Regions from separate parts of the Homo sapiens genome. Here regions 1, 2, 3 and 4 are each linked to region 5. The links come from fine-mapping of genetic effects on gene expression. A gene starts in region 5. Each other region holds a variant in brackets. All regions are shown on one strand. Distances are between the middles of the regions. Region 1 has its middle 110 kb from the start of PROS1. Region 2 has its middle 87 kb from the start of NSUN3. Region 3 has its middle 250 kb from the start of PROS1. Region 4 overlaps PROS1 (protein S). Region 5 holds the start of PROS1 (protein S).

Region 1 (6,476 bases), 110 kb after region 5:
GGTAGGGAGGAAGAACAGGTGTGTGTGTGTACAAAACCAGGAGGAGAGAAAAAGACAACAAAGAGAAGACATAAAACAAGAAAGGTAGGAAACAAATTCAGTGAAAGATTTGGTAAGATAAAAATTGAAAATGAGGGAAAGAAAAGTAAAGAATATAGAAAGATACTTGATGAGGAGGGTGAAGAGGAGATGGAGAAATAATAGAAAAATAAATATCTACTTTTTTTGTAAACAAATAGCAGTAGATAGCGACAAATTGATGCCACACCAGATAAGCATATAAGAAAGAGGAGAGGGACCAGGTGCAGTGGCTCCCGCCTGTAATCCCACTGTGGGAGGCTGAGGCCAGCAGATGGCTTGAGCCCAGGAGTCAGAGATCAGCCTAGACAACATGGCAAAACCCTGTCTCTACAAAAAAATAATAATAAAAAAAAACAACCCAAAAAGCTATCCATACCTGGTCGCCCATGCCTGTAGTCCCAGCTACTCAGGAGGCTGAGGTGGGAGGATCACTTGAGCCAGGTGAGGTTGAGGATGTGGTGAACCATGATTGTATCACTGCATTCCAGCCTGGGTGACAGAGTGAGACCCTGTCTCAAAAAAAACGAAAGAAAGGAAGGAAGGAAGGAAGGAAGGAAGGAAGGGAGGGAGGGAGGGAGGGAGGAAGGAAGGAAAAAAAGAAAAGAGAGAGGAGAGAAAATTGGTAGGGGAGAGGAGGTTTAACCAAACATATTAAAGGGGATAGGTGCAGTGGCTCACATCTGTAATCCCCAAATCTTGGGGGGCCAAGGTGGGAGGATTGCTTGAGGCCAGGAGTTCAAGACCAACCTGCGTAACAAAGGAAGTCCCCATATCTACAAATATAAAAATAAAAAATAAAAAAATGTTAGCCAGGCATAGTGGCATGTGTGCCTGTAGTCCCAGTTACTTGGGAGGCTGAGGAGAGAGGATGATTTGAGCCCAAGAGTACAAGCATGCATTGAGCTATGGTCACACCACTGCACTCCAGCTTGGACAACAGAGTGAGACCCTATCTCAAAAACAAACAATAAAAACCCCAAACATAAAAAAGGGAGACAGACATAAAGAACAAATATAAATGGAAAGAAAGAGGGAAAGATTTCCAGACTAAAGACAAGAAAGAGGCAGAGATTATAAAAAATATAATTCAGAGATTATGAGAGAGAGAAGAATGTGTCTGGAAAGAGGAAATAGGAACAAGTAGAAAATGATTTTAGAAAATGAAAAAAGCCAGAGAAAGAAAGAGATGATGAGCAAAGAGAAAGAGACAGAGGATAAATCACAAAGGAAGAGACAAGGAAATGGAAAGTGAGGCAGGAGGAAGAGGGTCCTCAGCTAGTTTATCCAAGGTGAGGATGCAACCTTGACTTGCTGTGGAAATGATGTTCCAGTGCCCTGGAGGGGGAGCTGTTGGCCAAGTAGCTGCTAGACAGCATACACCCCCAAATCATCTCTGACCTTCTTGGTCATCAAGAAATCCTCTGTAGGATGGTACAGGAATGATGACCTTGTGACATTCTGCCAGGAGTGGGGATTGTGGGGAGCTTGCAACCACTAATCTCTCTCTGCCTTATTCCTGACCTCTTTGGGGTTCAGTCAATTTACAACAAATGGAGCTGTCAGTTATTGCATTTGGGGAAGTGCAGAGTAAAAAGGACTCTTCTGAACATGTGATGAATTTCATGCTGAAAATGGAACTACGAAAACGTTTAAACTTACTGCTATACAATAAGCCCAAGCATCATCAGCTGTAACTGGCACACTAATGGTGAGCTAGAAATACAATGGGCAACACCTGGGATGTCATGAGAGAAAAATCCAGTAGGATGTCAATTTACTAGCTTATGAAGACTACTGAGTTAAAGGGAGTGGTATATTCATCCTATTACGTGAAGGAAGAAGCTTGCTTGGACTGCACTCGGTGGTAGAATCAATCATTGAGATAATGCTGTAGCTACCCTTGATACATGTTCAATACCTCCTTGGAGGAGTTTTTTTTTTTTTTTTTTATCAATTTCAAACATTCTTCTGACTTTGATATAACTCAAGAAATATGTAGAATAATTATTCTAAAAGTTTAAATATTTTTTTCTTTTTCTCTGCAAGTACCATTTTTTTTTTTTTATTTAAGATTTGGGATACATGTGCAGAATGTGCTGGTTTGTTACATAGGTATGCATGTGCCATGATGGTTTGCTGCACCCATCAACCCATCATCTAGGTTTTAAGCCCTGCATGCATTAGGTATTTGTCCTAATGCTATCCCTCTCCTTGCCTCCCACCACCCGACAGGCCCTGATATGTGATGTTCCCCTCCCTGTGTCCATGTGTTCTCATTGTTCAACTCCCACTTATGAGTGAGAATATGCGGTGCTTGGTTTTCTGTTCCTGTGTTAGTTTGCTGATTTTTAAAGAATCTGCTTAGAGGTCAGAACTTGGTGCTCTTGAAAACCTTTGACAAATGTATACCCAACTAAAAAGAGTAGCTTTCAAAGAAATTTTTATCTGTGCCAAGCCAATTTGAGTGAAACTCTCCTATTCCTGGTATCTATACTCTCCCCTCTGATGTTTCAAATAGATATTCTCCAGGAATGTCTTAGAAACCTAAGTATCTGCAGCTTTTAAGCACTCACTATTTTTTCTCTCATCAGCTCATTTCAGCTTCATGGATGCCATGAAGCATGGCATCCAATCCTAAGTCTTCCCTCCTTCCTGTCAGCCTTTATTTCTAGGAAGAAAAACTAAGCCTTAATGAACCTAATTACTAGAAAGATTCTGGTATAATAATGTAGACTTCTTGGGAGTCAGATTGTTCAACCCAGAGAAGAAATACCTGGATGCCTTCGGGGGCCATAAAACTAAACATGAAGACTTGTATCTTCTACCTCCCATGTGGAACTTTCCAAAATACCCAACAAAGAAAGAAAAATCAGTAAAATCATTCATCTTAAATCTCTCATTTGCATCATAATCATCACAGTCCTCCAGTTATTTCTAACACATAGAACCTGAGAACCTATTGGTATGGTAACTGTGGGGGTGTTGGGAAGGCAATGACCAATCCATTAATCCAACAACTATTTGTGGAACACACAAAATGTGCCAAACACTATGCTTTCTGGGCATTTGGGATAGATATAGATGAATGAACAAGACACAAATATCTATGTGCCTTTGTACAAATACGGTCATAAAGATGACTAACCTAGAAAGCAAATGTGTCTTCTATGATTCTTCTCATATCATGTTTTCAAAGATGCTAATTTAGTCTTTTATCTTAGTATCAAACTGACAGATTCCAGGTTACTTTTAATTGTTAATGTTCCATAAAAAATAAATAACTCTGTGAGTGTGGAATTTAGATAGAAATCTAATCAAGTGGACCAGTC[A/G]CTGTCACTGGACAGTCATCTCTCAGGCTCTGTGTGACCATCTTCACTGATGCAGAGCTCACTATTAACCAAAGTCAGCTCATTTTCCCTTTGTTCACGGCATCAGTTTGGGACTTTCAAAAAGCAGATTCCAACAGAGATTAGACAGGTGTTAAGGACTGAATTGTGTCTCCCCAGAATTCATATGTTGAAATATTGAAGTCCTAAACTCCAAAGTGACTACATTTGGAGATAGGGCCTTTAAGGAAGTAAGTAAGGTTAAATGAGGTCATATGGGTTGGGCCAGAATTCAATATGACTGGTGTCATTTTATAAAGAGAGAGAGACACCAGGCATGCTCAGACACAGAGGAAAGGCCATGTGAGGACACAGTAAGAACATGACCATTTGTAAAGAAGGAGAGAGACATCAAGAGAAACCAAACCTGCTCATGCCTTGGTCTTAGATTTTCAGGCTCGAGAACTGCAAAAAATCCAATTGCCCCCTACTCTGTAATATTTCATTATGGCAGCCCTAGCAAACAAATAAAACAGGGAGAAACATCTGTGAAGGAAAAAGGAGGGTACAGGAATGGGTAGGAAGAATCTTCATGTAGCCATGTAAATTGGACACCTGTGAAGGAGAGAAGGAAGTAGGATGATAGGAAGTCTCAGATCTGAGTGCAGTTCTAAGAAGGTTTCAGCTATGTTGATGAGGAGTTCTTGAAAAAAGTTGCCCATCAGAAGGGTCCTGCATCAAGCAGGAAGGGCCTGGCATAAGTACCCTCACTGTGCTCAGTCATTAGTTGGGAAGCAGCCCGGTAGGTCCAGAGGAATAACAAGTGGTCTGTCAGTCAGCTCTATTTTGCAGAAGGTTCTCTTGGAGGTGGTCTGGGCAGAACCCCGTTCATGTCTGCTACAGTGAGCTCTGACTATTAGAAAGCAATCCTTTTCATGAAACCAAAAGCAGACTCTTCATATTCAACACTAAATACTCCTGTGTTACTGAGAGTCAATATAAATGAGCTTACAGCTCCCTTGGTTGCAAGTAGTAGAAACTCAATTTGAATTAGCTTAAGCAAAAGGAGAATTTTAGAAAAGGTATTTAGTTATCTTATGGAATTCTAGGGCTGAAAGAATATTCCTGGGGCTTGGATTTGCTGTAGTGAAATAAGGAAGTTCCTTCACTTTGTTTCTCATTACTGTTTCTCTTCAAGCAACTACATATTACTCTCTCAATACATGCTGGTTTCCTCAACTCTTCAGTTTACATTGTGGGGCATGCCTGCCAACCACTTCTGCATTTATATGTTCATGTTAGATACAGTTCAGACATGGCAGAGTAATAATCATTTCTAGGTTTCAGTCCCAGTTCCAGAATTCCGAGAGAAGTATTATTGCTTTAATCCAGTGTATTTGTTTATGGAAAGTGAAACACAAAGGTGGACTGTTGAGTAAAAAGAAATATTACAATATTGCTGAATACTCTGTATTGCTACTATTTGTGCTATTACTATTGTAATTTACCAATTTATAGGCTCCAAGAATAAATTTAAAAATAAAATTAACATTAAAAATGTGGTACATGTATATCATGGAATCCTACATAGCTGTAAAACATGATGAAATCATGTTCTTTGCAGCAACATGGATGCAGCTGGAGGCCATTATCCTAAGAGAATTAATGCAGAAACAGAAACCAAATACCAAATGTTCTCACTTATAAAAGGGAGCTAAACATTGGGTACACATAGACACAAAGATGGGAACAATAAACATTGGATATTCTAAGTGGGGAGAGAGGAAGGGTCCAAGTGCTGAAAAACTACCTATTGAGTTGTGTGCTTACTACTTGTGCAATGGGATCATTAGAAGTCCAAATCTTAGCATTATGAAATATATCCACATAACAAACCTGTCTTGTCTTAAACCAGACTTGAAAATGGTAACAGGCTGCTTTATTTGCCTCATTTCAATTTTGTGGGGAAGAAGAGAGACTGTACTTTCCTTTTGATCTAAAGTGGCTCAAATCTGTCCCTTTGTTTAACAGTGCCAGATTTAAGAAAAGAGTAATATTTTAAAATCTTAAAATGTGTTTTTATGCCGTATATTTCAGCATCACAATTTTCACCAGCACCATTAGAACATACGTTCAGATCAGTATGGTGTATGAACAGAAATGCTAATCCACTAAGCACTCATGTTAATGGTCATTTAACAAAAGAAATAGATTCTGAGTTGCTTGTAAATTATGTGAGGAGGAAGGTAAAGAACCTAGGAAATAATTAACTAGCATAATTCATTCAGATGTATTTCCTCTGAAAGCATTAAAATGTCATTATTGCTTCCTGAAAGAATTACTTTAAAGCACTGATATATTGTGGTTCTTTTATATGATTTTCAGAGAGCTGATTGTGTGGTTCAGAAAGTTAAAAAAAATACTAGAATCTCATATTCAATTTGGCCTTGATTTGTAGACTGTAGATTCATACAAATAAAAATTTAATTTTATGATCTATTCATTTAATGGTAGTTATATAATGCTTTTAAAATTTTTTTAATCCCTTTTATTAAAACAAATATAAGGCTTCTTTGGAGTGGGCAGAATGGGAGATATTAAATAAATCAAATGTTAAATAAGAAAAAATAGTTTTAATTAATAAAGCTGTGTTTCCAAAAGTAGCTTTTATCACCTTTACTATTACTTACATTTAATTTGACTGACTAGAAACTAGAAGGTGTCAGGCTATTAGACCTGAAAAAGTAGTGCCATGACCATGTTGAGGTAAAGTCAGGAAAAGTGTCATTCGAAATTATTCTGGGGATTTATATTATTCTGTATCCAGGGACTAAATTATTTAGCTCTATTAATTGTATAATAGAATATGTAAAGTATATTTTAGACTGAGAAAAGAAGCTCAAAATACTTCCTATAAGTGGTACAAGTTTACTAATTTGAATATATACTTTTTATTTGTGTTTTTTTAACAACTGCATTGGTTAATTTTAGGTGCCCAACTTAACTGGATTAAGGGATACCCAGATAGCTGGTAAAGGACTATTTGGAGGTCTATCTGTGAGGGTGTTT
Region 2 (6,476 bases), 180 kb before region 5:
CTGGACTGTAACCTCTGTAACAGCAAGAAAATTATTTTTTTTCTTTGATGTACCCCAACCTCCTAGAAGATTACCTGTTACAGAGTAGATACTCAGAAAATATTTGCTAAAGGGAAAAGCTTTCCTCCTCTTATTTTTCACTATTATAAATAATTTTGTGATGACTATTTCTGTAAGTAAAGTTCTCTTACAAACACCTATTTATTTCTTTTATACCTCTTGAAGTGAAATTGTTGGGTCAAATGATGTGAACATCTTTAAATTTCCTACTATTTATTGTCAAATAGTTTTCCAGTTCTCCCCTATCCAATCCAATTCACAAATTGTGGGGAGGAGAGACGATATAGCAACCAGCCTTCTCTGTGCTTCTGCTGCCCTGGCCATCATTGAGACAAACCCTTCCCCCAGGAATAAGAACTTGCCAGTTTGATTGACCCAAGTCCTGGACATTGATAGGGCAAAACATATTAGTGAATGAGGTGAATGTGCATTAAAAGATAATGCATCCGTGTGCATTCCCTCTCAAGTAGTTTTCTGTATTTGAACACCACCCATACCTGCAAACGCACACCTCTTGAAGCAGCTAATTATCTCCTTATTTTTTCCTTTGATTCAGCCTATTTTTTTCCTATGCATAGGTTCTAGGTCTATATTCTGAAAATGTGATTAAAAATGTGAACCTGAATACACAGAGCTCATTAAATATTTGAATATGCTTCTCATGTGACATAGATTTCAAATACTCTGCTATCTTAAATTCTGTTATCTGAACATAGCTTCATTTGTTTCTATTCCTTTAAAATTTTGCTATTTAGAATATAATGCAATATTCTAGCAAATGTCTGAGCAGAGTATGGCTATCACCCTCCTCTAGATAGCATTCTTGTGTTAATGCCCATTAGCTTTATTGGCTGCCACAACACCCTGTTGGTGTATTAAATTTCCTGTTGAATACATCTCCCATTTGGCTATTTGCGCTGACACCTAATCTTCGGTTCTCTATACTGGTGTCCTTCTTTTTCGAATTTAGGTTCAAGGTCTTATATAGTGCTAGTGACCATGGAAAATAGTCTATTATATACCCTATAACAACCATTTGTTCATCTCTAGATAGTTTTCCTACCTCCATTGTAATTTCATGATTATAAGAAGAATTATTCAGAAAGAAAATGAGATATGGTATATTTTATGTGAGGTACATGCCATACACAATCAGCAAGGGATTTTTCAGCATTTTCTGTAGCAAAATTCTAAGCCAATTTTAAAGGATGCTGACTGTGGAAAACTGACACAGGAAATAAGTCAGCAAAAGAATTTAAAACACAAAGGACAATGGGAGTATTGAGCACAAAAATGGCAAATAAGGTGGCTTATAAATTTGGGGAAATTAAGCTGTTATCTTTAAGCATGCATCGGTTAGATTTTAATTTTGCACCTGTTTTGCAGACAGAAGTTTTGTGTCTAATTCTCATGTAAACATTTTAAGCAATCAGAACATATATCTACATTGCTTTCATGGAGTACTGCTGGAAGAATTACTTTAATTACATTTAATCCTATTTAGGACTGATTGAGAGGCATTCTAACACAATAGGAGAGTGGAAGTGGATAAAGTTCAGGTCAGGGATTTACCAAGTTTTTATGGATTTCTTCTGTTCTGTCCTCCTTTATGGGATATAGCCATTTTGTAGATAAAATATAAAGTAGCAAACCCAGGAAAATAGGGGAAAGACACTATTGGTCACCTACTTTTGAAGAAATGTGCCCTCTTTGAAGGCTAGACTTGGTGAAGAATTTGTGAAATGACAAAGATTTTTTTTTTTAACCTTTTTTTTTTTTTTTTTAGAGAGAAAGGATCTCTCTCTCTCTGTTGCCCAGGCTGGAGTACAGTGGCACTAATATGGCTCACTGCAGTCTTAACCTCCGGGGCTCAAGTGATCCTGGCACACCAGCCTCCCAAGCAGCTGGGACTACAAGTGCATGCCACATACCCAACTAATTTTTTTATTTTTTGTAGAGATGGGATTTTGCTATGTTGCTTAGGCTGGTCTCAAACTTCTAGGCTCAAGTGAACCTCCCATCTCAGCCTCCCAAAGCCCTGAGATTACAGGTGTGAGCCACTGTGCCTAGCGGTCTCTCTCTTTTCTTGCAATGCCATCACATCAGGAACTAGCTACCTTACTAGCTAGTTAATTAAAAACTTAGCATGAGCCATGGATTTTTATTAAAGAAAACCTGTGCATTTATCTTATGGGACTTGGAGAAGCTTTCGATAATTCCTGAAAATCAAAGTACCTATGTGCTCGCATGTTGTACCTGAAAAGGGACATTATTGAAAGTGATTTGTGGTTGCCAGGTTTCTCAGGTACCATGCTGACATTCTGCCAGAAGCAGCCTTATACTCCAAAGATTATACTCTACTCAAAATAGCATAGTCATTAAAAATGAATTCTGTGATCAAATTCTCTCTCTTCCACTCCCTGGAAGTGTAAACTAACACCTTTGACCCTCCACTTTCTCATCTGTATAATGAGGATATAACTACTGCTGTAGTTTGAATGTGCCCGCTAAAGCCATGTGTCCTGACTTAATCCTCAATGCCATAGTATCGAGAAGTGAACTTTTAGGAGGTGATTAGTTCATAAGGGCTCTGCCATAATAAATGGACTAATGCCATTATAATGGGAGTGGGTTAGTTATCTTGGGAGTGGGCTCGTGATAAAAGGATAAGTTTGGCCCCTTTCCTCTCTGTCCTGCATGCTCACTTGCTCTTTCACCTTCTGCTATGGAATGATGCAGCACAAAGACCCTTTCCAGACGCCAGCACCAAGTTTTTGGACTTCCCAGTCTTCAGAAACATAAGCCAAATGAATTTGTGTTCATTATAAATTATGAAGTTTCAGCTATTCTATTATGGCAGCACAAAATGGGCTAAGACAATTCAGATGTTTGCTTTAAGAATGAAATCATATACTTGTTTGTACATGAAGGCACTCAAGAAGTGCAGTGATGATTACATTAGTTATCTACTGCTATGTAACAGTTACATCAAAACTTAATAGCTTAAAACAACAATGATCTTTTATTAGCTCACAATTCCTATGTGTCAGGACTTTGGGAGCAGTTTAGCTGGATGTTTCTGGCTCAGTTTCTCACGAGACTACAGACAAAATGTTGGCTAGGGTTTCAGTCATCTAAGTCTTGACAAGGGCTAGAAAATCCACTTCCAAAATGGCTCATTCATAGGAACTTTGGCAGAAGGCCTTAGTTCCTTGCTCCTTGGACCTCTCCAGAGGACTGTTTTATTGTCCTCAGGGCATGAAACCTGGTTTCCCTAAAGGAAATAATCTAAGAGAGAAAGGCTGAAGCTGTAATATTTTTTATGACCTAGCCTTAGAAATTACACATAATCATCTCTTATTGGTTACACACATCATCCCTATTCAATACGGGAGAGGACTACACGCTTGTGTAAAGACCATTGGCAAAGACCATTGGAAACCATCTAGCAGACTAGTTAACATGATGATGATAACTGTGATGATGATAATAAGGAGGAGGAGGATGAAGGCACAGACCACAGGAGATCAAGAGCTTACCGGAGTTCAGAGAAAATATGTGATGTTACCTTTGCTTTAGTGTACAGAAGAAAGAAGCTGGATACTCAATGTGAAACTTTAATAATTCTAAAGAACACCAAGAAAGTTTCTGAATGAACTGTTCTCTGGAAGAGCAATATAACTTACCAGTTCCCATGTTCCTAAAACATAATATATTCTAAACTCATTCAACAAATGTTTGATATGTCCTGTGAATTATTGT[G/A]TTTGCTTGGGATGCATCAGTGAATAAAATGAAGATCTCTGTCCCAATGGAGCTTGCGTTATAGTGGAGCAAGAGGCAATAAAAAAGAATAAGTTGCATGATATGCTAATGATACATTAAAAAAATAGAAGATGTACAGTGTAAAGGGGATCTAGAAATGTTGGTATGGCATATGGGGTTGGTTAAAGGACTAAATATTTGTTGAATGGATGAATGAACAAGTCATAGGCCTGCCTCTGGAGTCTCTGGGAAACAGAACTTCAAAAGTTGTATGTTCACCAATGAGAAAAAAAAATAGCTTAAAACATGAATTGAAAGCAGTAGCTTAGAAAACCTAGAACACATTGGCTCTAAGAGGTTCTGGGCCTCAGAACACCAGTGAGAGTAGCTGTTAGACTAGACACATTAGGAACCGCACACAAATACACAGTACTGGACACTGCATGTGACCAGGATTATCCAGGACAACAGGTTTACTATGAATAATGCTCAGCCAAGGGAAAGTGTGGTAGACTCAGATTCAGAAGAGTCTACCTACCTGAACGCCAGTGATTTCTAGACCATACAGTAACCCTTCATGACAGTATCACCATCTCCATTCCACAAAAGAGTAAACAAGTATTCAGAAGCCAAATGATTTACTAAGCATTTGAATCGTTTCAAAGACATTGTTCTTTCCGTATGGCATATCTCTTCTTCCAAGATCTTCTTGAACATGTGATGGGAGAAAAATAGCATTGGTAAAATATCTAAATGCACAAAAGCATGATTTGTGATTTTTACATGTGGGACTCAAGAAGGGACCACAAACTTAAATTTTGTAAGTATTGTATGGTATGTAGTGTTTGTGCAGATCTCCTCTTCACAACTTGAAACAAGATTTCTTATGCTTCACGAGTTGCAATGTGAAATATGACTCAGAACCGTTGTTCTCTCCTGAGGGGTCTGTATATATAACGAAAATGACAAGAAGAAACAGAACACAGAGATTACGCTGTAGATGTGGAACTTCAATATTTTCCTTCCTGGATTGGTGGGAAGGTGGGGATTATACTCTTCAAGACACCCCGCACTCAACATGGCAGCAGTAGCTACGAATTTGGATCAAATGATTCTCACTTAATCAGCTCTCTTGAGAAGTAAGCAGAATAAAACCTATCCTGAATTCCTTATTGCAAAATTTTATGTGAGATTGTACTCATGACTATTACTTAGTAAAGGTAGACTAGAAAATGTACCATACTTATTTTTGACACACAAATAGCTTGACTGCTAAAATAACATGCCAGTGAGAAAGAGACAGGAAGAAAGCAAATATACATTTCCAAAGAAAGCTAGTGGTAGTTAGACCAATTTTTCTACTTGCAAAAGTTATAGACCTCTCTTTGTAACAATAGAAAAGAGAGAGAAACAGAGAAAACAGCTAAAGAAATCTTGCTCAAAATGAATGGCTTAGAATACCTATCACAACACAAAGAGACAGCTCTCATCTCCTAGAATAGTTTGGAGACTTCCTGTGTGATCCAGTAGAGGAGTGCCTAGCCTAGTTTTGAACATGAACACATATGTCCTTGCTACCCAATATTAAGTAAGTGCATATGACATATTAAATGTATGCCAATGGCTTAAAAGTAAAAGAGGCTGGGCACAGGGGCTCACGCCTATAATCCCAGCACTTTGGGAGGCCGAGGCGGGCGGATCATGAGGTCAGGAGATCAAGACCATCCTGGCTAACAACGTGAAACCCCATCTCTACTAAACAAAATACAAGAAATTAGCCGGGGGTGGTGGCGGGCACCTGTAGTCCCAGCTACTCGGGAGGCTGAGGCAGGAGAATGGCGTGAACTCAGGAAGTGGAGCTTGCAGTGAGCCAAGGTAGTGCCACTGCACTCCAGCCTGGGTGACAGAGCAAGACTCCATCTCAAAAAAAAAAAAAAAAAAAGTCAAAGAAGCCAGTTTGGCTTGCCAAATAAATACAATTTCAACCTCATCTTGCTCTTTGTCAAAAAATGATGTATTCCTATACATAAATCATAAGCCCACTAAGCACAGCCTCATAATTTGACACCAATCTTTTCTCTTGATAGTCATTACTCAGGTTATCATCTTTGAAAGAGAATGGTGACATTTTTGCTTAAAAAAGAACTCATTTTAATTTTAATTTCTACCCACCGTGCATTTTAAATGAGGCAATGCAAGCTGTGGAATGCTTGCATCTGCCCCTATCAAGCCCAGGAAGCCAGTCCAGGGAAAGGAAGGCGGAAAAAGGGAAACACCTGTCAAGGACCTGAGAGCCCAGGGGTGCACAAGGTAGGCAGAGAGGCCTCCGCTGATCAACACTTTTTGACAGATGTCACATCACTGTTGCCATCTCTCTTTTGCCAACTTTTAGCTCTTATCATATTCAAGAATTTAATTCTCAACTTTGAGAGGAAAAAAAGAACAGAGACAATGTTTATTCCCCATACTCTTAGCTCTGGTTTGCCAAGCTGATTTCTGAATATGTAAATACTTTTCTCATGGAGACGCAAAAGACTGTCTTCTTGGTCTTGTTAAAGAGAGAAATTAAGCCAGAATGTTCTCAGGGTAGGCTGGCAGGGAAGCCAGGGAGGTATATTTCCACTCGTGTCGCTGTTTAAGTTAATTTAGCCAGA
Region 3 (6,476 bases), 250 kb after region 5:
GCCACATGATTATCTCAATAGATGAAGAAAAGGCCTTTGACAAAATTCAACAACCCTTCATGCTAAAAACTCTCAATAAATTAGGTATTGATGGGATGTATTTCAAAATAATAAGAGCTCTCTATGACAAACCCACAGCCAATATCATACTGAATGGGCAAAAACTGGAAGCATTCCCTTTGTAAACGGGCACAAGACAGGGATGCCCTCTCTCACCACTCCTATTCAACATAGTGTTAGAAGTTCTGGCCAGGGCAATTAGGCAGGAGAAGGAAATAAAGGGTATTCAATTAGGAAAAGAGGAAGTCAAATTGTCCCTGTTTGCAGACGACATGATTGTATATCTAGAAAACCCCATTGCCTCAGCCCAAAATCTCCTTAAGCTGATAAGCAACTTCAGCAAAGTCTCAGGATACAAAATCAATGTACAAAAATCACAAGCATTCTTATACACCAACAACAGACAAACAGAGAGCCAAATCATGAGTGAACTCCCATTCACAATTGCTTCAAAGAGAATAAAATACCTAGGAATCCAACTTACAAGGGATGTGAAGGACCTCTTCAAGGAGAACTACAAACCACTGCTCAAGGAAATAAAAGAGGATACAAACAAATGGAAGAACATTCCATGCTCATGAGTAGGAAGAATCAATATCACGAAAATGGCCAAACTGCCCAAGATAATTTACAGATTCATTGCCATCCCCATCAAGCTACTAATGCCTTTCTTCACAGAACTGGAAAAAACTACTTTAAAGTTCATATGGAACCAAAAAAGAGCCTGCATCACCAAGTCAATCCTAAGCCAAAAGAACAAAGCTGGAGGCATCACACTACCTGACTTCAAACTATACTACAAGGCTACAGTAACCAAAACAGCATGGTACTGGTACCAAAACAGAGATATAGATCAATGGAACAGAACAGAGCCCTCAGAAATAATGCCACGTATCTACATCTATCTGATCTTTGACAAACCTGAGAAAAACAAGCAATGGGGAAAGGATTCCCTATTTAATAAATGGTGCTGGGAAAACTGGCTAGCCATATGTAGAAAGCTGAAACTGGATCCCTTCCTTACACCTTATACAAAAATCAATTCAAGATGGATTAAAGACTTAAACGTTAGACCTAAAACTATAAAAATCCAAGAAGAAAACCTAGGCATTACCATTCAGGACATAGGCATGGGCAAGGACATCATGTGTAAAACACCAAAAGCAATGGCAACAAAAGCCAAAATTGACAAATGGGATCTAATTAAACTAAAGAGCTTCTGCACAGCAAAAGAAACTACCATCAGAGTGAACAGGCAACCTACAAAATGGGAGAAAATTTTCACAACCTACTCATCTGACAAAGGGCTAATATCCAGAATCTACAATGAACTCAAACAAATTTACAAGAAAAAAATAAACAACCCCATCAAAAAGTGGGCAAAGGACATGAACAGACACTTCTCAAAAGAAGACATTTATGCAGCCAAAAAACACATGAAAGAATGCTTATCATCACTGGCCATCAGAGAAATGCAAATCAAAACCACAATGAGATACCTTCTCACACCAGTTAGAATGGCAATCATTAAAAAGTCAGGAAACAACAGGTGCTGGAGAGGATGTGGAGAAATAAGAATACTTTTACACTGTTGGTGGGACTGTAAACTAGTTCAACCATTGTGGAAGTCAGTTTGGCGATACCTCAGGGATCTAGAACTAGAAACACCATTTGACCCAGCCATCCCTTTACTGGGTATATACCCAAAGTATTATAAATCATGCTGCTATAAAGACACATGCACACATATGTTTATTGTGGCATTATTCACAATAGCAAAGACTTGGAACCAACCAAGATGTCCAGAAATGATAGACTGGATTAAGAAAATGTGGCACATATACACCATGGAATACTATGCAGCCATAAAAAATGATGAGTTCATGTCCTTTGTAGGGACATGGATGAAACTGGAAATCATCATTCTCAGTATACTATCACAAGAACAAAAAACCAAACACCACATATTCTCACTCGTAGGTGGGAATTGAACAATGACATCACATGGACACAGGAAGGGGAACATCACACTCTGGGGACTGTTGTCGGGTGGAGGGTGGGGTGAGGGATAGCATTGGGAGATATACCTAATACTAGATGACAAGTTAATGGGTGCAGCGCACCAGCATGGCACATGTATACATATGTAACTAACCTGCACAATGTGCACATGTACCCTAAAACTTAAAGTATAATAATAGAAGAAAAAACTTAAAATAAATAAATAAATCAATAAAAACTAGACAGAAGCATTCTCAGAAACTTGTTTGTGATCTGTGCATTCAACTCATAGAGTTGAAACTTCCTTTTGATAGAGTGGTTTTGAAACACTCTTTTTGTAGAATCTCCAAGTGGACATTTGGAGTGCTTTGAGGCCTATGGTAGAAAAGGAAATATCTTCACATGGAAAATAAAAAGAAGCATTCTCAGAAACAACTTTGTGATGTGTGCATTCAACTCACAGAGTTGAACCTTCCTTTTGATAGAGCAGTTTTGAAACACTCTTTTTGTAGAATCTGCAACTGGATAATGGGACGTCTTTGAGGCCTTCTTTGGAAA[C/G]GGGATTTCTTCATATAAAACTAGACAGAAGAATTTTCAGAAACTTCTTTGTGATGTGTGCATTCAACTCACAGTGGTGAACGTTCCTTTCAATGGAGCATTTTTGAAACACTCTTTTTGTAGAATTTCCAAGTGGATATTTAGCGCCGTTTAAGGCCTATGGTAGAAAAGGCAATATCTTCGTAGAAAAACTAGACAGAATGATTCTTAGAAACTACTTTGTGATGTGCGCATTCAACTCACTGAGTTTAACCTTTCTTTTGATAGAGCAGTTTTGAAACACTCTTTGGTAGAATTTGCAAGTGTGTATTTAGAGCGCTTGGAGGCCTTTTTAGAAAAGTAAATATGTTCACATAAAAACTAGGCCGAAGCATTCACAGAGACCACTTTGTGATGTTTGCATTCAATCACAGAGTTGAACATTCCTCTTGATAGAGTAGTTTTGAAACACTATTTTTGTAGAATCTGCAAGTGGATATTTGGACCTCTTTGAGGCCTTCATTGGAAATGGGATTTCTTCATATAAAAGTAGACAGAAGAATTCTCAGAAACTTCTTTGTGATGTGTGCCTTCAACTGACAGAATTTTACCTTTCTTTTGATAGAGTAGCTTTGAAACACTCTGTAAAGTCTGCATCTGGATATTTCGAGCGCTTTCAGGTTTTCCATGGAAACGGGAATATCTTCACCTAAAAAGTAGACACAACTATTCTCAGAAACTTCTTTGTGATGTCTGTACTCAACTCACAGATGTGAACCTTCCTTTTGATAGAGCAGTATTGAAACACTCTTTTTGTAGTGTTTGCAAGTGGATATTTGGAGTGCTTTGAGGCCTATGGTAGAAAAAGAAATATCTTCACATAAAAACTAGACAGAAGCATTCTCAGAATCTACTTTGTGATGTTTGCATCCAACTCACAGAGTTGAACATTCCTCTTGATAGAGCAGTTTGGGAACACTCTTTTTGTAGAATGTGCAATTGGATATTTGGACCTCTTTGAGGCCTCCGGTGGAAACGGGATTTCTTCATTTAAAACTAGACAGAAGAATTCTTAGAAACTTCTTTGTGATGTGTGCATTCAACTCACAGAGTTGAACCATCCTTTTTATAGAGCAGATTTGAAACACTCTTTTTGTAGTATTTCCAGGTGGTTACTTAGCGCGCTTTGAATCCTACGGTAGAAAAGGAAATACCTTCATATAAAAACTAGACAGAATCATTCCCAGAAACTACTTTGTGAAGTGTGCGTTCAACTCTCAGAGTTTCACCTTTCTTTTGATAGAGAAGTTTTGAAACACTCTGTTTGTAAAGTCTGCTTTTGGATATTTGGAGGGTTTTTAGGTTTTCTTTGAAAACGGGAGTATCTTCACATAAAAAGTAGACAGAAGTATTCTCAGAAACTTCTTTTTGATGTCTGTACTCAATTCACAGAGGTGAACCTTCCTTTTGATAGAGCAGCGTTGAAACACTTCTTTGTGGAGTTTGCTAGTGGATATTTAGAGTGTGTTGGGGCCTATGGTAGAAAATGATATATCTTCACATAAAAGCTAGACAGAACCATTCTCGGAAACAACTTTGTGATGTTTGCATTCAACTCACAGAGTTGAACTTTCCTCTTTATAGAGCAGTTTTGTCACCTTCTTCTTGTAGTATCTGCAAGTGGATATTTGACTTCTTTGAGGCCTTCTTTGGAAAAGGGTATTTCTTAATAAAAAAACTAGACAGAAGAATTCTCAGAAGCTTCTTTGTGATGTTTGCATTCAACCCACAGAGTTCAACGTTCCCTTCAATAGAGCAGTTTTGAAACACTCTTTCTGTAGAATATCTAAGTGGATATTTAGGGTGATTTAGGTCTATATTAGACAACGAATTATCTTCATATATAAACTAGACAGAATCATTCTCAGAAACTACTTTGGATGTGTGCATTGAACTCACTGAGTATAACCTTTCTTTTGATAGAGCAGTTTTGAAACACTCTTTTTGTAGAATTTGCAGGTGTTTATTTAATTTAAAGCACTTTGAGGCCTACGGTGGAAAAGGACATATCTTCACATAAAAATTGTACAGAAGCATTCACAGAAACTACTTTGTGATGTTTGCATTCAACTTACGGAGGTGAACATTTCTCTTTATAGAGCAGTTTTGAAACACTCTTTTTGTAGAATCTGCAAGTGGATATTTGGACCTCTTTGAGGCCTTCGTTGGAAAATGGATTTCTTCATTTATACCTAGACAGAAGAATTCTCAGAAACTTCTTTGTGATGTGTGCATTCAACTCACATAGTTGAACCTTCCTTTTGATAGAGCAGTTTTGAAACAGTCTTTTTGTAGAATTTCAAAGTGGATATTTAGAGCGATTTGAAAACTATGGTAGAAACGGAAATATCTTCATATAAAAATAAGACAGAATCATTCCCAGAAACTACTTTGTGATGTTTGCATTCAACTATCAGAGTTTAACCTTTCTTTTTTTAGAGCACTTTTGAAACACTCTGTTTGTAAAGACTGCGTTTGGATATTTGGAGCGCTTTGAAGTTTTCTTTGGAAACGGGAGTATCTTCACATAAAAAGTAGACAGAAGTATTCTCAGAAGCTTCTTTGTGATGTCTGTATTCAACTCACAATGGTGAACCGTCTTTTGATAGAGCATCTTTGAAACGTTTCTTTGTAGAGTTTGCAAGTGGATTTTTAGAGCGCTTTGTGGTCTATTGTAGAAAAGGATATATCTTCACATAAAAACTAGACAGAAGCATTCTCAGAAAATACTTTGTGATGTTTACATTCACCTCACAGAGTTGATCATTACTCATGATAGAACAGTTTTTAAATACTGTTTTTGTAGAATCTGCAAGTGGATATTTGGAACTGTTTGAGGCCATCGTTGGAAATGGGATTTCTTCATATAAAACCAGACAGAAGAATTCTCAGAAACTTCTTTGTGATGTGTGCATTCACCTAACAGATGTGAACATTCCTTTCAGTAGAGCTGTTTTGCAATACTCCTTTGCAGAATTTCCAAGTGGATATATAGTGAGCTTTGAGGCATATGTTAGAAAAGGAAATATCTTCCTATAAAAGCTAGACAGAATCATTCTCCGATACAACATTGTGATGTGTGCATTCAACTCACTGAGTTTAACCACTCTTTTGATAGAGCAGTTTTGGAACACACTTTTTGTAGAATTTGCAAGTGTGTATTTAGAGCACTCTGATGCCTGTGTTAGAAAAGGAAATATCCTAACATAAAAACCAGACAGAAGCATTCTCAGAAACTACTTTGTGATGTTTGCATTCAACTCACAGAGTTGAACGTTTCTCTTGATAGAGCAGTTTTGAAACACTCTTTTTGTAGAATCTGCAAGTGGATATTTGGACCTCTTTGAGGCCTTCGTTGGAAAATGGATTTCTTCATATAAAACTAGACAGAATAATTCTCAGAAACTTCTTTCTGATGTGTGCATTCATCTCACAGAGTTGAACCATCCTTTGTATAGAGCAGATTTGAAACACTCTTTTTGTAGTATTTCCAGGTGGTTATTTAGAGCGCTTTGAATCCTAGAGTAGAAAAGGAAATATCTTCATATAAAAGCTAGACATAATAATTTCCAGAAACTACTTTGTGATGTGTGCGTTCAACTCTCAGAGTTTCACCTTTCTTTTAATACAGCAGTTTTGAAAAACTCTGTTTTTAAAGTCTGCATTTGGATATTTGGAGGGCTTTTAGGTTTTCTTTGGAAACGTGAGTATCTTCACATAAAAAGTAGACAGAAGCATTCTCAGAAACTTCTTTTTGATGTCTGTACTCAACTCACAGAGGTGAACCTTCCTTTTGATAGAGCAGCTTTGAAACACTT
Region 4 (6,476 bases), 52 kb after region 5:
AAGTGGTAACATTGAATATGTCTTTGTGTAGAAATTCTGGTTTCTCATGAGGTATTCTTGTGCTGTTAATGGTACACATTAGATATATTATGGCTTAAGAATGCTTTTGTGGACTAGCCTGAGAACCTTACTATCAGAAATTTTTAACATTTTTCTCTTTTTAAGAAAGCACATTCTTTACTCCAAATTGACTGATTTACAGACAAACTTTTGGTACACAACCAATTTATAGGTAAGGTACTACATGTACATAAGATGTATAAGATAAATGTCTACTTTAATTCACTTCAAAGTATGTCACTGTTAGCTGGGCACCTTGGCTCACACCTGTAATTCCAGCACTTTGGGAGGCCAAGGTGGGAGGATCGCTTGAGCCCAGGAGTTTGAGGCCTAGGCAACATAGTGAGACCCCATCTCTACAAAAAAATAATTAACAACAAAAAACCAGCTGTGCATGGTGGCATGTACCTGTAGTTCCAGCTACTTGGGGGGCTGAGATGGGAGGATTACTTGAGCCCAGGAGGGTAAGGCTGCAGTGAGTCATGGTCATACCACTGCACTCTAGCATGGGTGACACAGAGAAACCTCGTCTCAAAAAAAAAAAAAAAAAGAGAGTACGTTACTGTGATTCAACATTGAATCTGGTGTAGGTGACCATTATGACATAAAATGTGTCAAATGGTTATCTAATCATTATGGAAAAATTAAAGGATGTACAAAAAAGGGCATGTATGATTATATTTACCATCCTAAATAGAGCTTGTTTTTAGATTAGAAGCTTTTGAAACATGATTAATTGATCAATATTTCTTTAAGCCTAAGTATCTTACTGGCTTAATTTTATTGTTTTCTCTTGGTATATTTTACTATATAAAAATTATAATGTGAAAATGATGGTTATATGTAACTTATTTGCATCTTTAATATAAAAACACATTATAAAATTAAGTTTTAACTCTATAATGAAATTTAGGTTTGCTAAGATATGTTTTCTTTTTCTTCTTTCTAGGATTATTTTTATCCAAAATACTTAGGTAAGTTCAAAACATCTCAATTATATAATCTTAGAAATGGAAGGGAACTTAGATATGTTCCTGTCTAACTCTCCACCTATCTATTCCATCCAATGTAATTTCATTATCCTTGGGAGTGAGGTTTCATTTTATATGCAATTTTGCTGTCTTTATATTTAACACATGTTGAGAAATTTGGAACGGTTCTTTAATTACCATGTGACATTTTAAATTTTAGTGTTTTTCTTTCTCATGTCTTTCTCATGAAGCTCTTGGGCTGATGCTCAGTTATATTGAGGTGCTAGACATAGTCTATGAGCATATGCGTTTTCATGGGTTAACTGTTTTTTTTTTTTTGTGAGGCAGCGCCTTGCTGTGTCACCCAGGCTGGAGTGCTGTGGCCTGCTCTCAGCTCACTGCAACTTCTGTCTCCCTGGTTCAAGTGATTCTCAAGTGCCTCAGCCTCCCGAGTAGCTGGGATTACAGGCATGTGCCACCACACCCAGCTAATTTTTGTATTTTTAGTAGAGACAGGGTTTCGCCATGTTGGCCAGGGTAGTCTTGAACTCCTGGGCTCAAGTGTCCACTCTCCTCAGCCTCCCAAAGTGCTAGGATTACAGGCATGACCCACCCTGCCCAGCCTTAGCTGCTGTATTTTAAAAGGGCAGTGGGATATGGATATATCCATGAAAAAGATGTTTTCTTTTGTAAAGTTACATGCAAGAATTTGTACTATTAAAGTGTAGAAAAGATAGTATATCAAGACTATTTCAGCTTTTTAATTTTAGATAGAAATGTAAATATTTTATAATAAAAATAGACAATATTTGGCTGTTAAATATTATGTGTACATTAAAAAAACAGTGTTAACTCTTGCTTCTTAGGGCCATGTAATGAGGCTGCATTTTTGCACGCACAATACTGTAGAGGATACATTCCTTTGATCAGAGTACATTTGGATAAAGATAAATACCATGCTAATACAGCATTATGTGTTCTGGGGAAGTTCCTTAGATAAAATATTTTTCATAATTTTATCCTTGTATCTCTCTTAACTTCCGCTTTTCTGGCCCTGCCCAACTCTTCTCTTTGCCTATCTCATTTGGCAACATGGTAAAAAAAACCAAAGTATAAAATAAAACAAACTAAAACAAAAACACAAGATGTGGGATCCAGGCTCAGACCTAAAAATTTTTAACTGTTTCAGATTAAACAAGTTGTTTAGCTTTCCAGCTTCTGTAGTTTTAAGTGTGCACTGTAACTATATTTTCTAACTTCAGAGCTTTTAAATCACCAAATATGTCAACGTACATAAATAACTTAATGTGTCAAAATTTCTTCAGATGTATTCTTGTTTAATCAACCCATCATGTGAAACAAAAATATACTTTTTATTATGATTTTTTTTAATTTAAATTTCATATTTTGGTCTTTATTTGTATATAGGCATGTGTGGTGAATTCCACTGTTAAAAACAATTTTTAAAAATGTCCTGCCTAAGTTACACTTTTTTTGTTATTTGATGTGTATATTCTATAGGCCAATGGCTCTAATTTGAAAAGCAAAACAAA[A/G]CAGTCCTTTCTCTGGTAAATCTAACAGTAGTTTTACTAACTACAACAGCTCATACAGGAAGGTCCCTGTAGTGAGATAAGGTCACCAAAGAAATTAAAAAATTGTAACCCATATATTTGGGGCAATATTTAGACTTCGTTTTCAGGGGCTGATAAAGCACTTCAATTGGCCTACATATTCCATGTACTATCTTGAAAACATGCGATTTGGAAATAAGTACTCTGGGTTTCATTATAGTTTTTAAATTGTGTTCTTCTCTTTTGTAAGAAGTGGAATAAATAACTACCATTTCCATAGGCCTAGTATCACCTAATAGAGTGAGTGTTTCTAGTAAAGAGAGAGAAACTTCCTGGGAAGAATGGTGAACTCTGAGCCTAAATATAAACATTAGAAATCATTTTTTGATGTGAGCTGGCAAAAAATAAAATAAGGAAAAAACCTGAAAAATAAAAAAAAGAAATTATTTTTAGTTTCTAAGATAAGTTGGTGAATTACCTCAGAATGCTGACTCCCTCCCTTCAAATCTTCTCTAAAGAAACAATAAGATTCCAAGCACTAATAATAACAAAATAAAATGACAAAAAGAAGTTTAAGAAATGCCTGGGTAGGCGAAAAGCTGGCCTGACCTGCTGGTATGTGTGGTGGGGGATTGGGTTCTAACTGACAAGGCAGTAGTGACAAAACAGATTTGATAATTTAAAAAATGACATGAACTTTCCAATTGAGAAAACAAACACAAAAAATACAATAGAGCAAACCCCAAGTAACAAGAAGTTTTAAAATAACAAAAACAGAGATAGAAATAAGTGGAATAGAAAAACAAAAGTGAGCATTAACAAAAGCACATTCTCATTCTTTGAAAAGGTTAGTAAGTGAGACTGACATCTGGCAGGAATAATCAAGGAAAAACAAAAAAGAGAAAGAGGAAATGCCAATACATAGAGTACAAGATAGAAAGGGAAAATATTCTAAACTCAACACAGATTAAAAATATTATCATAAAATATTACAAACAGCTATATTAAATACACTTGGAAACCTAAATAAAATGGATGTGTTCCTAGAAAAACATAAAATATCTGTAATTTCACAGGAAGCAATAGAGAACTTAGTTATACAAACGAGTATTAAACAAGTTAAAACCGCAGCCAAAGCCCTCTTCTTCCTATTTCTCCCGAAACCCAGATCCAGATGGTTTTACAAATGAACTCTTCCAAATTTTAAGAAATTGTTAATGTTTCCCTTATTAAGATATTGTCCTTAAAAAATGAGCTTATTCTAAGAGGCTTATGTAATCTTGACTCCAAAATCAAATAAAGACATTTAGTAAACTCATTTTAAAATTTAAGTGAGGGAATAAAAGAAAAGAAAAATAGCATTCCTTTTGATTTTGAATTAATTCTAAATAAAATGATATTCAGTCCGATCTTAAGTGTGTTAAAAATAATATCATGATCAAGTAGAATTATTCCAGAAATTTAAAGGTGAGTTAACATCAGGAAATCAGCTGGGTGCAGTGGCTTATGCCCGTAATCCCAGCCACTCAAGAGGCTGAAGTGCGAGGATCACTTGAGGCCAGGAGTTTGATACCAGCCTGGATAACATAGTAAGACCCCACCACTAAAAGTATATTATTACCTCAGTTCATACAGAAAAAGCAGTTGATAGAGATCACTACTTAGTTATGATAAAAGTTTTTGTCAAACTAAGAATATAAGAAAAGTTTCTGAGCTTGATAAAGGTTAAATCTAGAATAACCATATAATTAATCTTCCAAATTTTCACACTTCAGTTCAGGATTAATAATGCATAAGGTAATGTCAGCTAGAACAAGAATAAGATAGGGTTGTTTTGAGCAAATTAGCATGAGAAAGGAGGGAGGGAGGGAGAGATGGAAAGAGAAAGAGAGAGAAAAGAAAAAGAAAGTGAACAAAATCTGCAGTAAACATTATACCTAATGAATAAAATTTAGGTATAGTTTCTTTATGGTTGAGAACAAAAAGAAAAGTACTGGAGGTTACATTCAATGCAATAAGAAAAGAAAAATAGGGATTGTATAGATCATAAGCTATAGTATATTCCTGTCATTACTTTTAATAGATATAATACTGGAAAAAAATAGAATCCATAGACAAAATATAGGAACACATAAGGTATTTAGATAATTCTATGACTCTCCTATAAAAATCCATAGTAGTTCTTTATGCAAGCAGTAGTCTAGTAGAAATTAAAAAGATGATAGCATTCACAATAGCAGCAAATCCCATAACATATCTAGAAATATCTTAAGAACACATAAAAACCCTATGGAGAAAATGTTAATACTCAAATTGAAGACTTAGAAAATGAATTAAAACCATGGAAAGATATTTCATGATCTTGAATTGAGTGATACTATACAGTGATCAGTTCTCCTCAAATTGATTTTATTTTATTTTATTATATTTTATATTTTTAGAGATGGGGTCTCACTATGTTGCCCACACTGGTCTCAAACTCCTGGGCTCAAGCAGTCCTCCTGCCAGGGCTTCCCAAAGTGCTGGGGTTATAGGTGTGAGGTACTATGTGTGGCCATCCTCAAATTTATATGTTCAGAGCAATCTTGTTTAAAAAAATATTTTTGAGAAACTCAGTAAACTCATTTTAAAATTTAACTGAGGAACTAAAAGTCCACACATGTCTAAAATACAAAAGAGAGAAATATCTTATCAAATATTAATAATATAAAGCTATAGAAATAAAACTATATGGTATTTTCAGAACATGAAACTGAACAGAAAGTTCAGAGAAAGGCTCATATCTATGACAACCTAATATTTGATAAAGATGATACTGTAAGTCACTGTGGATTATTTAAAGATGGTATTGCGAAGAATGGCCAGCTATTAGCAGACAAATAAACATGGGTTTCTAATTACCACCAAGTGTAAAGGTGAATTCTAGATGGAATAAAGACAAAAATGTTAAAATAAAACCATGAAATTAAAGAAACAATATGGGAGAATATCTTTGTGACTGATGACATGGGGGAAAATTTTAAATTCACAAGCTGTAAGGTGAAATAATAAATTGGATTATAACAAAATTAAGAATTTATCTTACAAGAGAGACATGAATAGTAAGATTAAGAGACAAATGACAGATCTGTCTCTGTCAAATAAATATCAAAAATATAAATATCAAGAGGTGATATTTATAAATGTTTATTTTTTTTCAAATCCGCAGGAAAAACAAATAAGGATCAATAGAAAAATGGTAAAAAAAAAAAATAGGGAAAATTTTCAAAGAAGAAAACTTTCAGATTTGGAAAATGACATGAAAATATGCTGCCTCTCCTTAGAAATCAGAAAAATAATGAGATATTACTTTACTACCTATTAGTCTGCCAAAAATTAGAAAGCAAGGATGTAGAAATCCTTATACTCCACTGGTGAGAATGCACCTCTGAGAGCCATTAAGTACATTCCTATTTAATGATCACACAATTCCACCACTGGGTATCTATTCCAAAGAAATTGTTATGCAGGTACTAAGGAGACATGCATGAGGATGTACTTTCCGCCTTCTTGTAGAGGTAGAAAGTTGGAGGTAATTTGAGTGTCTTATCATGGGTAGAGAGAATTATAAAGTGGTGGTTGCATACTGTGGTGTAACACTTAGTGGTTAGTAGCAATGAATTATATGTAGCAGCATGGATTGATCATAAAAATCAAGTTCTGAGAAAAAAATTAGAGGATGTGATATATAACACAAAACCATTTACACACGTGAAAAAAAACATGGAAATGAAATTGTAAATATATATTTTCAAGAACACTTACAAATTTTAAAAATACACATAACCACTGGGCATGATGTCTCATGCCTGTAATTCCAACACTTTGGGAGGCT
Region 5 (6,476 bases):
GATTGGGCTTCTGTCCCATCTAACTACTGAAAGCATATTTTTTGATATAACTTATATCTTCCTAATTACCAAATCGGTTTTCTTTTCTATTATTTAATATATATATAATATAGTTAACTTTTCTAAAACTGTTTCCTGCCTTGGTCTTTCACAGTTATGCACTGCACTACCCTACCCTGGTTCTCTTCTTCTTTGTTTTTTTAACTTATTATGGACCGCTTCATGAATTTGCATGTCATCCTTGTTCAGGGGCCATGCTAATCTTCTCTGTATCATTCCAATTGTTGTATATGTGCTGATGAAGTGAGCACAACCCCTGGTTCTCTTCTGATCTCCCAGGCCATTCCTCCTCTGGATTTCTATATGTAACTTCTAAGATATGACCTTACCCCTCTGCTTTTCTTTTTTAAAACATGTTGTCTTGATGGAATTTGATTATTATTTCTGTGACTGAAGGATCTCATGATGTGTATGTTTCTTGAGCATTTTTAGAACTATATTCAAGACTGTTTTTTCACAAATATATACTCAACACCAGTTTTGCAGTAAATCCTCATTTATCTTCATCCAGAGGTTCTTAGAAACTATAATTTTAAACAAAATAACATACAATAAAACCAATTTTACCACAGACAAATTGATATAAATCAATTAAGTTCCTGTGGCACATTTCTGGTCACAAAAACATCACCAAACTTCAAAATAAAGATGGAACCACTAGTAATAGTAAACATTGAAATAAATGTGAGCTATACATTAAGAAAGATGAATAACAACAAGTAAGATAATTATTTGTCCACTTATTCCAGTTCAGGATCATAGGTGGCATCTCAGGGTAAAAGGTGAGAACTAGCCCTTGACAGGACACCATTCCATCACAGGGTGCTCTCATACATGCCCACACTCACTTAGACTGGGACAGTTTAAACACACCAATTCACCTAACATCCACATCTTTCAGATGTGGGAGGAAAATGGAGTACCTGGAGAAAACCCATGCAGACGTGGGGAGAACATGCAAACTCCATACACACAGTGGCCTGGGCCAGTAGTTGATTTTATTTTTCTCAGCCATGTCATAATGAAACAATACTATTAAAGCATCTGCTCTACTTCATGCCTTCCCCATTTCTGCTAGTGATAACATTACCGAGCATTCCTGGTGCCAACATGCAGTCCCTTAGCAAAGCTGACTCTTAGTTTTTGAATATCTTAAGTGGTTTGGTAGCCATAAGTGCTGCTCACCATGTCTAGTTCTCTTTCCTTACAGGCACATGAAATAACAGTTATTCCCACCCTCTTCAAGTCAGGCATACCTCGTGCCTTGCTTTGTCTAATGAAATGTAAGTGGTATGTCACTTCTTGGTAAAAGTATTTAAGAGCTGGGGCACAATTCTCAATGTTCTCTCTTCTCTTGCAATGGTAATTGTAGAAGACTATGTTGACTTTGAGGGATTGTAAAATCAAAGCAGCATGAATTGCTGAGTTCACACATGGAAGATAGTTACTTGGAAAGTCATGCAGACTTGTAGTAGACTTCCAATGAGCAAGAAATAAACACTTCTTATCTAAAACACTGTAATTTTCTGGCTTTTTAGTGTGTAATCTGGTTTATTCTGAATGATGAAAAGAGTCATGCTGCTATGATTCTAGTTAACACTGTCATTTCAGGATAATTGTTGATATTTTGGCATAAATATTCCCAGGCACACACTGTTGACTTAAATAGAATGAAACGTTTATGTACCAGTCACTGTTTTAAGCACTAGTAATATAGTTGTGAACAAAACCTTTAAAAATTCCTGCTCTCATGAATCTTACATTTTACTGGTGAAGACAGATGAAGAAGTGGATAAGTAGACACTATGTTGGTAGAAGATGATATGGAGAAGTGTAACACTGGAAAAATGATGGGATTAAGATTATGAATGAGACTAGATTAAGAGTTAAATTTTGGACAGGTTTTAATTGTATATTAAGGTCTGTATCAAAACCAAACTTTGGCTAAATGAGATTACCAAGTGTCAATTCATATTGAGCTAAAGCCAGATATCACTTTCACAAAGTTAACTTCTGAGATTAATTAAAAACCCAGAATTTTATTGAAAGATGTATTGTCAAATTGTATATTAATAGATTCCAGATGGTTTTACAAAGTTTGACGTTACAGTGTAGGACACATAAATTTTCAGTGTTGACAATTATTACTGGCAATGTGATGCAAATTTGTGGTATTAAAAAGATATTCAGGCCAGGAGAAGTGGCTCACACCTGTAATCCCAAAGCTTTGGGAGGCCAAGGCAAGAGGATCACTTGAGGTCAGGAGTTCCAGACCAGTCTGGGCAACACAGCGATACCATCTCTACCAAAAAAAAAAAAAAAAAAAAAAAACAAATTAAAAAATTAGCCTGGCATAGTGGTGTGTGACTGTAGTCCTAGGTACTCAGGAGACTGAGGCAGGAGGATTGCTTGAGCTCAGAAGTTCGAGGCTGCAGTGAGCTATGATTGCACCACTGCACTCCAGTCTGGGCAACCTAGTGAGACCCTGTCTCGGATAAATAAATAAATAAATAAATAAGGCTAGGTGTGGTGGCTCACACCTGTAATCCCAGCACTTTGGGAGACCGAGGCAGGCAGATCACTCACGATCAGGAGTTCAGAACCAGCCTGGCCAACATGGTGAAACCCTGTCTCTACTAAAAATACAAAAAAACTAGCCAGGCATGGTGTCAGGCGCCTGTAATCCCACCTACTCAGGAGGCTGAGACAGGAGAATCACTTGAACCCGGGAGGTGGAGGTTGCAGTGAGCCGAAATTGCGCCACTGTTCTCCAGCCTGGGCGACAGAGTGAGACTCTGTCTCAAAAAAAAAAAAAATTTTTTTAAATTAATAAATAGGTAGATGTATAGATAGATATTCACTTTCAACTGAAGTCTTTATCGGAGCAAGATTTTTTTTAAGGTAGATTATTCTAATATTCCCTTCTTTTCTTCATGTTCTTTACATTATTTTTATGCCTGTATGGCATACAAGACCGAAAAAACATGTGGATGATCAAAATGACCCCATTTGCTTTTACTATCACCATAGTTCTTCCTAAAGTCCTCATTGACTTCCAGGTTTTGGTTAATATCTTCAGGGACAACTCAGTGTCTCACTGTTTCTGCTTCTGAACCTAGGGATCCTGTCCTCTTGAACCCTGGAAGTTGTCTTGACCAGTCAGAGAACTGCGTTCCCCACCCCTTCCCCTTTGGAAACGTCACACTGTGGAGGAAAAGCAGCAACTAGGGAGCTGGTGAAGAAGGATGTCTCAGCAGTGTTTACTAGGCCTCCAACACTAGAGCCCATCCCCCAGCTCCGAAAAGCTTCCTGGAAATGTCCTTGTTATCACTTCCCCTCTCGGGCTGGGCGCTGGGAGCGGGCGGTCTCCTCCGCCCCCGGCTGTTCCGCCGAGGCTCGCTGGGTCGCTGGCGCCGCCGCGCAGCACGGCTCAGACCGAGGCGCACAGGCTCGCAGCTCCGCGGCGCCTAGCGCTCCGGTCCCCGCCGCGACGCGCCACCGTCCCTGCCGGCGCCTCCGCGCGCTTCGAAATGAGGGTCCTGGGTGGGCGCTGCGGGGCGCTGCTGGCGTGTCTCCTCCTAGTGCTTCCCGTCTCAGAGGCAAACTGTGAGTAATCAATAGCGTCTCTTCTCCCTTCCCCAGCATTGTCGACTGAACTGCGTGCCCTGGTTGGTAGGATTTTCTTCTCTAGAGCTGCAGCCTCCTAGAAAGTTTCCAGTAAGTACCGACAGACACCCAGCGGATGGAAACAGCCGTGGATAGAGCAGGCAGTGCAATGGTGGGGCAGGATCACTATTTGCACAGTTGCGAGAATGTATTGCCTACAGGACAGATCTAAGAACCTAGATGACACTAAGTATCAATGGAGGGATGAGAACACCTGCCCATTTCCCTTCAAAGCTGAAGTTCCCAGTCAGAGAACTAGGATGAGCAGATTCTAGCTTATGAGTAGGGAAGAAAAGGTAACACACTGTGTCTTCCCTTTGTCCAAGCGCCTGCCCCCAACCTGCACCCGTCTCCTGAAACCTGCCTCCCTTTTGCAATTTCTGGACTTTGAGCTTGGTTTGCTTGTCTCACATTAACGAAATGTTTTAGGATGACTGAGGGTTTGTATAGCAGTAGATATATGTCACTTTCTAACCCTGAAATCAAAAGGACTGTTAAATACTGTATTCTATTTCTCAGATCGTTTGTACTGAGGATTTTTTAACACTGCATGCCACTGATCTGAGGTGGTGGCATGAATTCTTTATCTTTGTGTTTCAGGTTCTTTATGTCCTTATGCCCGGATTCAAGACAGGATATTGAGTTTTCTCTGAAAAATATATAAGGAATACCAAGGCAATTAGTACATTTTAGTGGTCAGTTAATTTGTTTTCTAAAGTTGTAAGTGTGTTTATTGAATAAAAACGCCTTTTTGTTTGTTTGTTTGAGGGTGAGTCTCGCTCTGCTGCCCAGGCTGGACTGCAGTGGCTGGATCTCCGCTCAATGCAACCTCCGCCCCCCGGCTTCAAGTGATACTCATGCCTCAGCCTCCCGAGCAGCTGGGATTACAGGTGCCTGCTTCGACACCCGGCTATTTTTTTTTTTTTTTTGTATTTTTACTAGAGACGGGGTTTCACCATGTTGGCCAGGCTGGTCTCGAGCTCCTGACCTCCGGTGATCCATCCGCCTTGGCCTCCCAAAGTGCTGGGATTACAGGCGTGAGCCACCGCACCTGGCCAAAAATGACTTCTTGTTCTATGTTTTATTTTCAGGGATTGGAACAGGAGTGAGAACTCTGAATTACAAATAACTTTTAGGAGTCTAGAGCTCCAAAGTAAACTTTTTGAAGATGGAAATTTCTAGAAAATTATATATCAATTTGCTAACATTCCACTAGTTTCTATTAGTTAGTCATCAGGATGAATGCAGTACTTTAAAAATCTAACTTGGGACTAAAACATTATTTTTTGATCTTACATTAAACAGCTACAATTGCAAAACTTCAGCATTCAAACCCCTATCATTCAGCCAATTTGTAACTACATGCGCTTATTACCTAAATAGTTCATTAGGACAATTAAATATTTGCTTCATAGCTAGTGTTTTGGAGAGGAGAAAGGCAAAGTAGCTTGCCACACTTAACTCCTTGTCATCATAGAAATTTGCTAGGCTTTTTCTCTTTGTAGAGATTGTTACATTTTGACTGAATCTAGGCAGAGGTAAAAATTATATGGGTTTGTGTATGTGTATTATATATAAACATATGGGGAATTACACTTGTTATATATAACACTGATAGAGCAGATAAATTAATTCTTCAAGTATATCACATAAAGAATAGTTGGCCCCATAATGCTTTCAGTTAAAAGTTTTTGATTGCTTAATTGGATTAAAAGTCATCTGTGGTTTACTTATGAGGAAATTTGGATATAGATGTGATGTTTTTAATCCATATGATTTGATTTTACTTTATTTTTATTTATTTACTTTTTTGAGACGGTCTAGTTCTGTCACTAAGGCTGGAGTGCAGTGGCATGATCATAGCTCATGGCAACCTCCCCCTCCCGAGCTCATGGGATCCTCCCAGATCAGCACCTATCTAGCACCGCACCCAGCTAATTTATGTGTGTGTGTGTGTGTGTGTGTGTGTGTGTGTGTGTGTGTGTGGTTTTTATTTTGTTTTGTTTTTTTGGTAGAGTTGGTGTTTTGCCATATTGCCTAGGCTGGTCTTGAACTCCAGGGTTCAAGCGGCCTGCCTACTTTGGCTGCCCAAAGTGCTGGGATTACAGGTGTGAGCCACTGTGCCCAGCCTCCATATGATTTTAAATCTGAGATATAATTAGAGCTGTAAATATTTTATTTGTAATTCATTGTGTAGTTCTTTATTTAGAATTATTTATTTATTTATTTATTTATTTATTTATTTATTTATTTATTTAGAGATGGAGTCTTGCTCTGTTGCCCAGGCTGGAGTGCAGGAGTGCAGTGGCGTGATCCCAGCTCACTGCAACCTCTGCCTCCTGGGTTCAAGTGATCCCCCCACCTCAGCCTCCCAAGTAGCTGGTATTGCACCAGCTGGCATGCACCACCATACCCGGCTAATTTTTGTATTTTTAGTAGAGACAGGGTTTCACTATGTTGGCCAGGCTGGTCTTGAACTCCTGACCTCCAGTGATCTGCCCACCTCAGCCTCCCAAAGTGCTGGGATTACAGGAGTGAGCCACCTTATCCAGCCTATAATTCATTGTTTAGGCCATAGAAAGCTAAGGACGATTAAAAAAATATTTTTGTGATTAAAAAAAATCTTGCCCAGACCGGAGTGCAGTGGCTATTCACAGGCACTATTATAGGGCACTACAGCTTTGAACTCCTGGCCTCAAGGAATCCTCCCATCAGCCTTCTGAGTGTCTGGGACTGTAGGTATGCACCAC

Evidence for each region. PIP is the estimated chance that this variant, and not a neighbour inherited with it, causes the effect. A credible set is the group of variants that fine-mapping cannot tell apart.
Region 1: its variant is the best candidate, but not a certain one, in a credible set for the expression of PROS1 in whole blood (INTERVAL, PIP 0.61).
Region 2: its variant is the best candidate, but not a certain one, in a credible set for the expression of PROS1 in atrial appendage (GTEx, PIP 0.84).
Region 3: its variant is the best candidate, but not a certain one, in a credible set for the expression of PROS1 in subcutaneous fat (GTEx, PIP 0.68).
Region 4: its variant is the best candidate, but not a certain one, in a credible set for the expression of PROS1 in whole blood (TOPMed, PIP 0.56).

What each region holds. Positions count from the first base shown.
Region 1 is chr3:93,862,564-93,869,039 of GRCh38, reverse strand. No RefSeq gene overlaps it. Among named protein-coding and RNA genes, the nearest start is that of PROS1, 110 kb to the left of the region's middle. The variant A/G (reference allele first, on the strand shown) is at 3,411.
Region 2 is chr3:94,146,848-94,153,323 of GRCh38, reverse strand. No RefSeq gene overlaps it. Among named protein-coding and RNA genes, the nearest start is that of NSUN3, 87 kb to the right of the region's middle. The variant G/A (reference allele first, on the strand shown) is at 3,823.
Region 3 is chr3:93,721,873-93,728,348 of GRCh38, reverse strand. No RefSeq gene overlaps it. Among named protein-coding and RNA genes, the nearest start is that of PROS1, 250 kb to the left of the region's middle. The variant C/G (reference allele first, on the strand shown) is at 2,620.
Region 4 is chr3:93,918,798-93,925,273 of GRCh38, reverse strand. PROS1 (protein S) reads left to right here. Exons shown (of 15, transcript NM_000313.4): 3 at 1,010-1,034. Among named protein-coding and RNA genes, the nearest start is that of PROS1, 52 kb to the left of the region's middle. The variant A/G (reference allele first, on the strand shown) is at 2,585.
Region 5 is chr3:93,970,864-93,977,339 of GRCh38, reverse strand. PROS1 (protein S) reads left to right here and starts at 3,444. Exons shown (of 15, transcript NM_000313.4): 1 at 3,444-3,666. The coding sequence starts at 3,591. It also overlaps the pseudogene RNU6-511P. RefSeq lists a silencer at 5,501-5,795.